Homo sapiens: one gene and its partners. The protein of the gene in region 1 purifies or fractionates together with the protein of each later gene. This does not show direct contact. Each region holds a gene or a part of one and is shown in the gene's direction. Other genes may lie near its edges. The genes, in order: SCO1, PRELID3B and STK38L.

Region 1 (4,125 bases):
TAGAAAAAAATAGTTTGATTAACGACTTGAAGTGCTGAACAAACATTTAAGAACTTTGGCAGAAATTTCTGAAAATTCTAGTCCAACCGCGAATCAAGAAACACAGGTAACACTATGTTCCGTTACTGGGTTAGAGAACAGAACAGTTGGCTAGTTTGGCTAACTCATAGAAAACAAGCAAACCAACCATGCTCTGGTCCAACAATCATCAGAGCACGAGTTTCTCCTACTCAGAGTCGGTCCCATGGGGGAAAAAAAAGCCACACAGGAGCGGGATCTGTAGTTAAGGAAGATAATTAGAGGACGATTTTCCTTTTTTTATTTCTCTGTATTTTGTAAAGCAACCACCGAGGTAGGGGCGGGGAGGGAGTGGTTAATATTGCGGATATTAAGATATAAATAAAGGCAGATGAAATGAAGTTAGACTTTCACAAAGAACGAAAAACCTACGAATGCTCTTGGCCTCATTAACAAGGAACATAAGCAGTTCCAGATGAGGAACCCATAACAAACTTCAAATAACGAAACTGTAGGGAGCAAGGGAGTCCGTGAGAGTATTTTAAGAAACTGGGACCCAGGAAGACTAAGTTAACGGATGGGATATCATGCTGTCTATATTTCTTTACACACTGCTATGCTTTATTAATTAGGTTACATTATAATGTTAAATAACTAGAAGCGCTGGGCATTTAAAGTTCTTCCAGACCGCCCTAACCACTCAAATTATCCTAATTAGCAATTTTTTTTAAGTTAAAGACTATTTCAATCGCAATGGGTCGGTTTCTATTTCAAAGATGTAAAGGAGTCAACATTCTGGCACTTCCTCTTGGCCGGCAGGACGAGGTTGACAAAGTCGGCCAGACAAGGTAGGGTTATGGGGGCTGCCCAGTCCCGTGGGTCTCTAGGCAGTGTGTTCTCTCTTCCGAGGTGGGGGTGTCCCCGGCGCGAGGAGCTAGCTGTGGTCACCGAAGCCCACGACCAAAGCGGGGGCCCCCAGCGCTTGGGGCCGCCTTGCCTCGGCCCAGCCGCGCACCTGGACCCCTAAGGCAGCCCCCTTCCCGGCGCTCCGCTGTCCCGCGGCCCCGCAGCACCGCCCAGCCCGCGCCAGACCCGCCTCCAGCCGCAGGGAACTACCTACCGTGCGCCGGCCCCTGGGCTGAAAGGCCTCTGACTACGGGCTATGTAACAGCGCCACCAACGAGCGGGACGGACAGAGCGACTCCTTCCGACTTCCGGAGGAAGCGGAACGCTACCGGAAATCGCGGGGAGGGTCAAAGGAGACCCGGTCTCCGAGGCTCATGGCGATGCTGGTCCTAGTACCCGGACGAGTTATGCGGCCTCTGGGTGGCCAACTTTGGCGCTTCTTGCCTCGCGGACTCGAGTTTTGGGGCCCAGCCGAGGGGACTGCGAGAGTCTTGCTGAGGCAGTTCTGCGCGCGGCAAGCGGAGGCGTGGCGTGCCTCGGGGCGCCCTGGCTATTGCCTGGGAACCCGGCCCCTCAGCACTGCGAGGCCGCCACCCCCGTGGTCGCAGAAGGGCCCCGGAGACTCCACGCGCCCCTCGAAGCCCGGGGTGAGTGCACACCTGGAACCCTTCTGGTGCTCGTCGCGGCTGTCGGCCAGCCCAGCGGCCACATCCCACTTGGTCGTAACCTCAGACACTACTCCGCCTCCCCTAAAGTTGTCCTTAGCTTGCGCGCCTTACCTGGGTCATGGAATTTCATCCTACATTTCCCGTGCCTTGCGGGTAGTCCCAGTTCTCCACAGAGAACTTGAGACTTTACACCCTCTCCACGTGGCTGGATGCCCCGACTTGGATTTTATGTTAGCGTTTCCATCAAAAAAAAAAAAAAAATTAAGTTTCAGGTTTTCTTAAGGGTATGAACCTAAAGTTTACCGTGATTGAGAAGTCAGAGGACTTTTATAATTTGTCACTTGAGCCCCATCCAGAGTTCCATGTATACGTTGAAATTGAAACAAAAAGTGGAACTTAGTTATGTGTGGATCTGCCTTTTTCTTGGGGTTCTCTCGAGTTCTAATTCTGACCCAGAAATAACTTGAGAGCCACTACCCTGTGGTAAGAGAAGTGGGTTTTTGGAGCTACGGGAAGGTTAATGAGTTAGGCCTAGTCTAGTTGGCCAACATCATCTTCATTTGGGGAGTTGAATAAGGGTACAAAGAAATAATGGGTGTAATTTGCAAGAAGCTCCACTTTTAGATTCCTCTTCTACTTTGGCATTGTTACTTCTGGAAGCCAGAGTTAAGTTAACCTCCCAAATTTCGTTTGGTCTATTTATCTCAGTATCAGCATAAGCAGATAATTGTTTTTTGTGTGTGTGTTTTTGGATTTTGGTTTTTGTTTTGAGACGGAGTTTTGCTCTTTTGCCCAGGCTGGAGTGCAGTGGCCCTATCTCGGCCCACTGCAACGTCCGCCTCCCGGGTTCAAGCGATTCTCCTGCCTCAGCCTCCCGTGTAGCTGGGTTTAGAGGGGTCCGCTACCACGCCCGGCTAATTTTTGTATTTTCAGTGGAGATGGGGTTTCACCATGTTGGCCATGCTGGTCTCAAACTCCCGACCTCAGGTGATCCACCCGCCTCCGCCTCCCAAAGTGCTGGGATTACAGGCGTGACCCACCGCGCCCGGCCATAATTGGTTTTAAAGTCATTACTGGAGCTAGGGTCACACATAGTAACAATCGTGGTACTTGAGCTTTTTTTTTTTTTTTTTTTTTTTTTTATTTACATGAAGAGAACTGACTTAGGGAACTTTCCCCTGGAGATGAATGCCTTTGTAGTTCAGATCCCAGACCTAACTGCATCCACAGAAACTTTGAGCATTTTCTCATCCCTGAAACATTTTGCACATTTAACATCATGGCCTGTGTGTATGTATATTAAAAACTACTTTAATAAGTTTGTATGGTTAAATGTTTGCATCTTACTAGAATTTTTATGTTTGAAATCCCTGCCCCAGTAGCCTGTTTCCTGGAAGTCTTTAGCAATCACATTTGCTATTGGAGGAGCTTTACTGGCTGGAATGAAGCACGTCAAGAAAGAAAAGGCAGAGAGTAAGTAGATTATCATCTGCTCAGCCCTGTATAAAGGTCTTCCTGGCTATGGACTAGCACCTTTTTTGTTGTTTTTTAGCTTTTTGTTTTGAAACAACTTTAGATTTACCAAAAAATTGCAAAGATAGCATAGGTTCTACATACCTTTCACCCAGCTTCCCCTAATATTAACATCTTGTATAACCATGACACATTTTTCATGACTAAGAAATTTTAAATGGCACACAACTATTAAATTACAGATTGTATTTGGATTTCACTTGTTTTTCTATCAATGTCTTTTATTTGTTCCAGGATCCAAGCTAGGATACCACTGCATAACAATGTTAAAAGATATACTGTGGATAGATTTGACTGGGCAAGATGAAATCTGGAGGGTACGAAGATGAGTAAGATGTAGTCGAGCCTTTGAGGTGCACACGGAAGGGAAACAGACACAGAAGTAAAGTATTTTACTAGATGCGATTCTGCCAGGCCAGAAGGAAGCTTACCATGTTGTGAGAGCAAAAGCAAGTCCCAGCCTTGAGATTTGAGAAGGCTTCCTAGAGATCAGGCAAGGAGCATAGTGCGAGTAGATACTGCATGCCCTCTGTGGATGAGGGGGAGGTGAAAAGAGCCTGGTCAGGAAATGCCAGGAACTGCTCTGGATTAGCATCTTGAAATATTTAGAAATTATTTATAAGAACTTTGCATTTTAGTGAATATCCTAGGACTTTTAAGATTTGGTTTAGAGGTTTTAGGTAAATCTTTAAAGTATTGCTTAAATCTTTCCATTCTTTGGAGTCTCTTTTGATAACATTATATACAAAGGTTAATGATTAAATCTGGGAATTCATAGGCTTTAGGAACTTAGCAGTGTTAAGTTTTGTACTGACATACATATATATGAGACTCTTTGGCATAATAAGTAGTATTGGGTAAGATTTTCATAGTCTAATAAGCAGTAAGTTTCTTTAGTTTCACAAAGAAACAAAAGCTAGGAAAGTTGTGGCGGGAAAATTCTAGAATATGGAAGCTTTTTTTGACTTTAGTTTGGAATTTCAAGTGCAATTCTAACGTT
Region 2 (4,100 bases), on another chromosome or scaffold:
AGGCAGTCTGTTCCCTGGACAAGGCTCATCTCTGAATGAAACCACATGCCACCTCCTCCTGCCCCAGCAATTCTTAGTCATTCTTTCATCCATTGATGCAACAAATAATTGTCATTTAGGAAGGGGGAAATCACTGAACAAGTCTGGCAAGAGCCTCGCCCTCAGGGGCTTACAGTCTAGCGGAAGTTACAACAAATAAACTAGATGACTCCATTAATTCATTCATCCCACAAATAGCTATTGATTTTTTTCATTTTTCAATAAGTAGTCATTGAGCCTTGACTATATGGGAGACACTGAGGATGATTTTTGAGCAAGACCGGCAAGATTCTTGCCTTCAAGAACTCAGTTCGATTGTGAATTTTCACAAATAAATTAACAAGATGATGTCAGAGGGGTAAGTGCTATAAAAAATGCAACAGGATATTGTGACGGAGCAGAGCAACAAGGTGAGAAACGGTGACGAGGGAAGTCTCTCTGGGAGAGACATCTCAGCTCAGATCCATCCTATGCACCTAGGGCAAGGTGTGCCCGGCCAGGAAGCTTTTCTACCCGACCCCTGGCACCGTGCTTCCGGACCGCATCCCTCGTAGGGGTATTATTCATGGGCAGGTCTGATGTTAGCTTCTCCGCGTCACGCCTTATTTATCCCCTCCGAGGGCTGCAAGCTCCTGGCGGGCAGGTGGGACTGGCCCAGCTGATCGGCTGGGTGGCTGGTGGATTTGGGAAAACAGCCCGGGCTGACCCAGGAGGTGGCTGGAACTCTCTATAGGGCACCAGGAAATTTTGCACAAGTGACCACCACAACGAACATCTATGTCAGCAGGCTGACCGCATGCGTCCACACGCCTCGAAATGCCAGGCGAGGATGTGCTGGGCCAGAAGGACAAGGAGGGCCAAGCGGGCGCGCAGGCACCTCCTGGACCTGACCCAACTCTGCCCAGAGGTCAAGGCTCGCTACAAGCCCGCCGCGCCTGCGCAGCACAGCGCCCGCGCCGGCCCCTCCAGCTGCCGTCGGCGGCACTGCGCCGGCGCGATGCGCCCGGCGCTAAGAGGCGGGGTTTCCTTGCGCCGCGCGCAAGGCTGGGGCAAAACCCGGGCCGGGATAGGGCGTGGGGCCGCGCGTCTGGACGTCCCTCGCGTCGGGCCCGACAGCGCCTGCGCACTGCGCCGCCGGCTGGGGTGCTGGGGGCGGGGCAGGGGCAGGTGTAGCCTCTGTGCCTCGTTGTCCCCTGGCGCTACCCGGACATCTCTCAGGGTGCCGGCACCATGAAGATCTGGACTTCGGAGCACGTCTTTGAGTAAGTTTGGGGCGCGGGTCGGCTCCGTGGAGGGCAGGCACGCCGGCCCTGGAGTAGAGGCGAGGCAGAGGCGGCCCGCAGGAGGCTTCTAGGCGTCGGGCCTAGCGAGGGGAGCGAACTCTGAAGCCTGCGGGCCCCGGCGACACGGAGGGCAGACCAAGGTCACGACCCCGAGGCGCCCTAGCCGAGGGGACGGCTCCGACCTCCAGACCCAGGCGGCCTTGCGACCGGCAGGGCTACGGGGTCACTTCCGGGCTGTCCCCCACCATGAGGTAGCCTCGGGCCGGCGGCCTCCTGAGGTCCTGGGGGCGTCGCGGAGCACGAAGCCCTTGACAGCACTCAGGGTTGCCCCATCCCGCCCTGTGAAACCACTTTGGGACGTGGACCCGAGGATCCCAAGAGGGAGGTGTTGGTTTTCTCCAGAGTGTACTTTCCCTGGCCGCCGTTTGGGTGGAGTTTCTACCTTCGAATGTGAATTTCGGGTGAACTCTGACCACCAGGATGTGAAGCCTTTTCACAACTCGTTCATCTACGCAGCAGAGCCTTGGATTTGGAATTCAAGGTCTAGCTCTGGCTGTAACAAGCGTGTGACCCTGGGTTACCCATTTTCATCTGAGAGATGGAAAAGGACGATCGTCAGGGCCTACCCGTGTTAGCTCTTTGAGGCCACGTTCAGGAACATCTTTTTGGATAATGTGAACTGTTTACTAACGAAACTAAGCCTTGAACCAGTTGGATGTGGAGAATTATATTCTCTTCTAGGTCCCTGATTCCATTTACAAAAGAGCCACAAATTTAAGCAGCGAAATCCTTTTTTTTCCCGAGTTACCTGCTCTGTTCCGCTGATCTTAATGTCGTTGCCACACTGTTTTAATTAGTATAGCCTTGTAAATAAATATGCTACAAAGCCATTTATGTTTTTAAAACTGTCTCTGAAGGCAAATTTTTTTTAAATTTCTTTTTTGAGGCAGAGTCTCGCTCTGTTGCCCAGGCTGGAGAGTAGTGGCGTGTTCTTGGCTCACTGCAACCTCCGTCTCCCGTGTTCAAACGATTCTCCTGCCTTGGCCTCCCAAGTAGCTGGGATTACAGGCGCCCACCACCGCGCCCGGCTAATTTTTGTATTTTTAGTAGAGACGGAGTTTCACCATGTTGGTCAGGTTGGTCTCAAAGTGATTCGCCCTGGTCAGGTCGCACCTGACCTCAGGTGATTCGCCCGCCTTGGCCTCCCAAAGTGCCGGGATTACAGGTGTGGGCCACTGTGCCCGGCCTCTGAAGGCAACTTTTAAAACGTTGTCCGCATTTGTACTCAGTGGGACACATCCTAGGGCCTGCTGTATCCTGCAAAGTATAGAATACTGGAATCAGAAGGAAGCTTTCTTTTCCCCCTACTGTTTAGTCTTTTTGGGAGGAAAAAGACCCGAAATTTGTGGTCATTTAGATGTTCATTAACCTGGTCGCATTCATCACTAGTCCATTTCAGCTCCGAGGATGTTTAATTTCAGTCCTCTTCCAGGTTTGCATGCTTCAGTCCTCTTCTGGGTTTGCATGCTTCAGAGGTTCTCGGCACTCAGTCTCCCTAGAACTGTCTTCTCCCATATCTTCCCTAACTCTTCTTCCTGGCTCATCCCCTCCTTCCCTCTACACTCTTTCTGCCTTTGTCTTCAGCGCTTCCCTGTCTTTTCCCATTCAGTGTAAATGTTCAGTGAGATTCTGTGTTGGCCTTCCTATATTGGATTTTACCTGTGATCTTAATTTCTTTTTTGTTTCTCTTTTCGTCACAGACTTTTTTTTTGTCCTGGGAGAAGCAGCCCTGATCCGTGCTTTCTCCCCACATAATCTGAGCTGTTTGGTCAAAGTCCCAAATGATAGGTATACATTTATGGCACCCAGATCTGTACCTTGAGCTCCAGCCTCTCTTGAGCTCCGCTTTTCATTTTCAGGTGCCTGTTAGGCATTGCTACCCTCGTGTCCCACAGGCCCTTAAAACTCAGCCTGTCTGAAATTGAAGTCATCATCTCCCCTGACAAATCTGAGCGTTGTTTCTGATCTTTAGGATGTCACTCTCTAACAATGTCTAAGTCATCATTCTACATCTTATCTGTCTTTGATTTTCCAACACTTTTCTTCTGAGGCCTATAGTTGGCATCCAGGTGAAGTCATTCATTGATTCCTTCAACTTATAGAGATGCCCAGTATGTGTCAGCCACTGTTCTTTGGATTGATTACATTTTCATAAGTAAATCAAGACCTCGATGCTGCGCCAGTGGAGTTAATAATGTCCTCACCTCGTTTCAAAGGTGAAGAAGTTGGACCGGTCAGTGAGCCATAGCCAGGTCCTCCTGATTCTACTTTGGCGTGGTCTTTGAATGTCTTCCATTGTGAGATCTTTTCCACGTAATTATGTTAATACAGCTCAGATTAATTGCTGGAAGATTAATCATAATAAGTATTGTTTGTAATGTTTGAGCTGGTTATGGTTCATAAAGCAATCTTGAGCCAAGCTAAGTCAACATCAGTGGTTTCAAGTTGGTTCAGAAAGGAGAGATGGACTAAATTACAAATAATGCATAACCACCCTGAAGTCATGCGATTATTAATTTTTTAGAGAGGGTTGGGGGAAGAGGTAAGGGCATGGAAGCCAGCTAACCATGGCATATGACTGGATGGAGACCTGGGGAGGGTTCATCTGATTTTCATTTTAGAGAGTTGCCTTGGTAAGAATCAGTGCTTGGCCTGTATGCTTCGATTTGTCGGGACACTTCAGATTGATGAAGCAACTCTGCTTATATACCTGCATTG
Region 3 (3,648 bases), on another chromosome or scaffold:
CCAGTGTTTACAACAGTTAAAACTGTTAAAACTTTTAAAATTCCTTGAAAATAAAAGAATGTCTGCAGGTGCCTTTTTTAGTGGGATAATGTCCCACTAAACTCTAAAAGAATATATTTCGTTTCCAGGTGCACTTATTCTGATTTTTTTGCAGTTTGACATTTTCCTCAGCAGTTAATTCTAGAAGTTGAGTGGTAGATATTACTTCATTATCAGCTCTTTTGTGATTTGATTTCACATGGTCTCTGCCTTAAAACCATTAAAAGTCATGAAACTTCTGCTATGCAATAGCACTTTTATTTGTCCCAAGATGTGGTTAGAAATATACTGGGTAGATCATAAAATGCAAACTCAGGAAAGCTAGCTGGGCATGGTGGCTCATGCCTGTAATCCCAGTACTTTGGGAGGCCAAGGCAGGCAGATAGCTTGAAACCAGGAGTTTGAGACCAGCCTGGCCAACATGGCAAAACCCCATCTCTACTAAAAATACAAAAATTAGCTGGGTGTGGTGGTGCACACCTGTAATCTCAGCTACTTGGGTGGCTGAGGCATGAAAACTGTTTGAACCCAGGAGGCGGAGGTTGCAGTGAGCCATGATCACACCACTGCACTCCAACCCAGGCAACAGAGTGAGACTCTGTCTCCAAAAAAAAAAAAAAAAAAGTAAAAAAAGCAGGAAAGCTTTTACAAGGTATTCCACCTTTGAGGCATTTTCAATAATAATATATTTGACTATCCTTTATTTAGGTGACATGATGACATTGCTAATGAAGAAAGACACCTTGACAGAAGAGGAAACACAGTTCTACATTTCAGAGACTGTTCTGGCAATAGATGCGATCCACCAGTTGGGTTTCATCCATCGGGATATTAAGCCAGACAACCTTTTATTGGATGCCAAGGCATGTGAATAAACTGGTGAATTACTAGGCTGTTGATTATTTTTTAGAGCAGTAGGGCTGATTTTGTGAATGGAAATCAGCAACTGCAATTTAGAATATTGCTAAACAACATTATATGATAAGGTACTAGGAGAGGACTTGGGAATTAAATGACAACAGGGAATATGGCTCTCTTTTTATCTCCCTCCATTTTCTACTTTTAAAAATCATCATCAGATACTTAAAATTTTACATTTTACGTGTATAAATCCCAAGCTAAGAATTTTTATTATAATTGCCATTTAATAGAGGAGTTTATAACAAGGCTTTTTGTTTTCAAAGTTAATATGATCTAATTTTACTGGATTTTTTTTTAGGGTCATGTAAAATTATCTGATTTTGGTTTATGTACGGGATTAAAGAAAGCTCACAGGACTGAATTTTATAGAAATCTCACACACAACCCACCAAGTGACTTCTGTAAGTTTGGTTGTTGTTTTTCTTCTTTCCCCTGGTTAAGATACTGTAGAGAACAGAAGGTTCTTTCCCTTTCCCCACTCCTTAATCCACTGTGTTTTAGATGTATATGTATTTTCTTTTTGTGGAGAGCATTTTTCCCTCGTGATTACAATTCCATATTGTTGAAATTAGCATTTCAGAACATGAACTCAAAGAGGAAAGCAGAAACTTGGAAGAAGAACAGGAGACAACTGGTGAGTCAACCAGTTTTTAAGAGAATTTTATGCCTTGGTTCTAAAATCTTACCTGGTTTTAACTTGATTATTTTTATCTTTATAATAATTAGTATTTACTTCATAACAATGGTAGCGCTTGCTCTGGGATCACACAGTTTTCTTAGTTTCTCTGTTAAGTTTCCTTGCCTGTAAAGCAAAGTGTTGGTTTTTACTTTGTAACTTTAGAGTAGTTTACTGAGCATACCTACAAGTAAGCTGTTTACTAGTAATTAGCACTTTAAATAAAACTCACTGAGGTGAATGCAATTGTAATGAATGCCTTGTGATTTCCATTTTTCCATTTTTCATAACTGTGTTACAAATCCTGATACAACAAATATCAATCAGCAAGTAAGGTGGTTGTGAGTTTCTAAAAACTTCTTTATAGACAAAGTAAACAGGAAGTTTGGGATGTAAACAGTGTTACAATAAAACAGATAAAATTTGAAAAAGCTGGCTTTGCCACAGATAAATTTAATTACTCCTTTAATATAGAATTACATTATTTTTAACCCCATACTATTTCCTTTCTATAACTGAGCAAATAGAAGAATTGCTTCCCCTTTCTCCTCTTTCCCTTTGTCCTGTTAACATGGTCCATCAACAGTCTACAGGTTAAGAATGTGCCTTAGGATTTTCTTTTTCTCATTTCTTATAAAATGCCTGGCACATACGGACACTCTATAAATACTTGTTCAACCAAATGATGAAAGGAAAACTAATTCAGCATTCCCTCAGGAAAGTAAACAGACTGAAAAATAATAGGCTAATACCCTCTAAAACCAAATAAAATGACCTTTGCATTATTGAGCTTATTATCTCATTAACCTAAGTAACTGCAAAAACTTGTAAAACATTTCAGTATTTTTAAATGTATTGAGTTACACATTAAGGAGAAAAACTTTGTTCTACTTTTAAAATGTGTCCATTTTAGATCAGGTTTTGCAATTGAGAATAATTGCAATATTCCCTATTTTTAAAGGGGAAAAACTGAATACTGCTCAAAATTATGGTGGGGGAATTCTGTACCCCCCTATTTACAAAATATTCATGGGTGATTACTCAGGTGTGTGTTTTATTATTCTCATGGCCAGTAGTTGCCAAGCCTTAGATCGAGTGTTTCCCAAGGGAGAAGTAGAGAGGACTCAGTGTTTGGGGCAGGAAATTTCTTTAGCACCTGGATCCCCTGCCCTGTAAATGCCAGTTATGTCACTGAGATGACAAAATCTGTGGTCCTACATTTTGCCATGGCCCCAAGAGTACTACCCCTGGTTGAGAATTACTGCCTTGTAGAAATCATTTTTGTAAGATTTTATATGAATTAAGAATTAAAAACTGCATAGCTTCCTAAAGGATAAGCAGTACCCTGGAATTACATTTATAATGAAAATACCTCATGCTTATTTTTGTAGTTTGTAGTTTACAAAACACATGCCGTTTATTGTTTCATCTTCATATCAACTCTATTAGGGCAGGTATTATTATTCTAGTTTTATGTAAGCAGAAGCTGAGCCTCAGAGAAATTGAATAATTTGCCCAAGAACACATTAGTAGTGAGTGGGGAAGCCAGGTCTTCTAGGTTCAACTTTTTCATTCTTTTTGAAATAGACTGAAGGCTATATATATAAATAACTTAACTGAGCTTCTTGTGGGGGCAGAAATGATATATTCTTATAAAATGCCTGGCACATATGGACACTCTATAAATATTTGTTCAACTAAGTGATGAAAGGAAAACTAATTCAGCATTCCCTCAGGAAAGTAAATAGACTGAAAAATAGTAGTCTATAACATATTATCTGACTCACTACCTACCACTAAGCCTTGCACATGATAAACATGCAAAATAAATACAAGTGAAAATTTAACTCCTCTATATATTGCTTTTTCCAGTAGTAAGCCATCCTCAGATAGATATTTTTTAAATGTTAAGAATGCTGGTTTGACGAGTTGCTCCTTTGTAGGCATATTCCACAGTTGGGACACCAGATTACATTGCTCCAGAAGTATTCATGCAGACTGGTTACAACAAA

Evidence for each region.
Region 2: the proteins of SCO1 (region 1) and PRELID3B purify together in Homo sapiens (co-immunoprecipitation; one large-scale study listed by IntAct). This does not show direct contact.
Region 3: the proteins of SCO1 (region 1) and STK38L purify together in Homo sapiens (pull-down; one large-scale study listed by IntAct). This does not show direct contact.

Annotation. Positions count from the first base shown.
Region 1 is NC_000017.11:10,694,681-10,698,805, reverse strand, and holds the start of SCO1 (protein SCO1 homolog, mitochondrial), read left to right. Parts: upstream 1-1,272; 5' UTR 1,273-1,298; coding exon 1,299-1,571; intron 1,572-2,974; coding exon 2,975-3,065; intron 3,066-4,125. UniProt on the Homo sapiens protein: Copper metallochaperone essential for the maturation of cytochrome c oxidase subunit II (MT-CO2/COX2). Not required for the synthesis of MT-CO2/COX2 but plays a crucial role in stabilizing MT-CO2/COX2 during its subsequent maturation.
Region 2 is NC_000020.11:59,039,900-59,043,999, reverse strand, and holds the start of PRELID3B (PRELI domain containing protein 3B), read left to right. Parts: upstream 1-1,213; 5' UTR 1,214-1,269; coding exon 1,270-1,301; intron 1,302-4,100.
Region 3 is NC_000012.12:27,313,757-27,317,404, forward strand, and holds part of STK38L (serine/threonine-protein kinase 38-like), read left to right. Parts: intron 1-747; coding exon 748-902; intron 903-1,258; coding exon 1,259-1,361; intron 1,362-1,532; coding exon 1,533-1,594; intron 1,595-3,579; coding exon 3,580-3,648. UniProt on the Homo sapiens protein: Involved in the regulation of structural processes in differentiating and mature neuronal cells.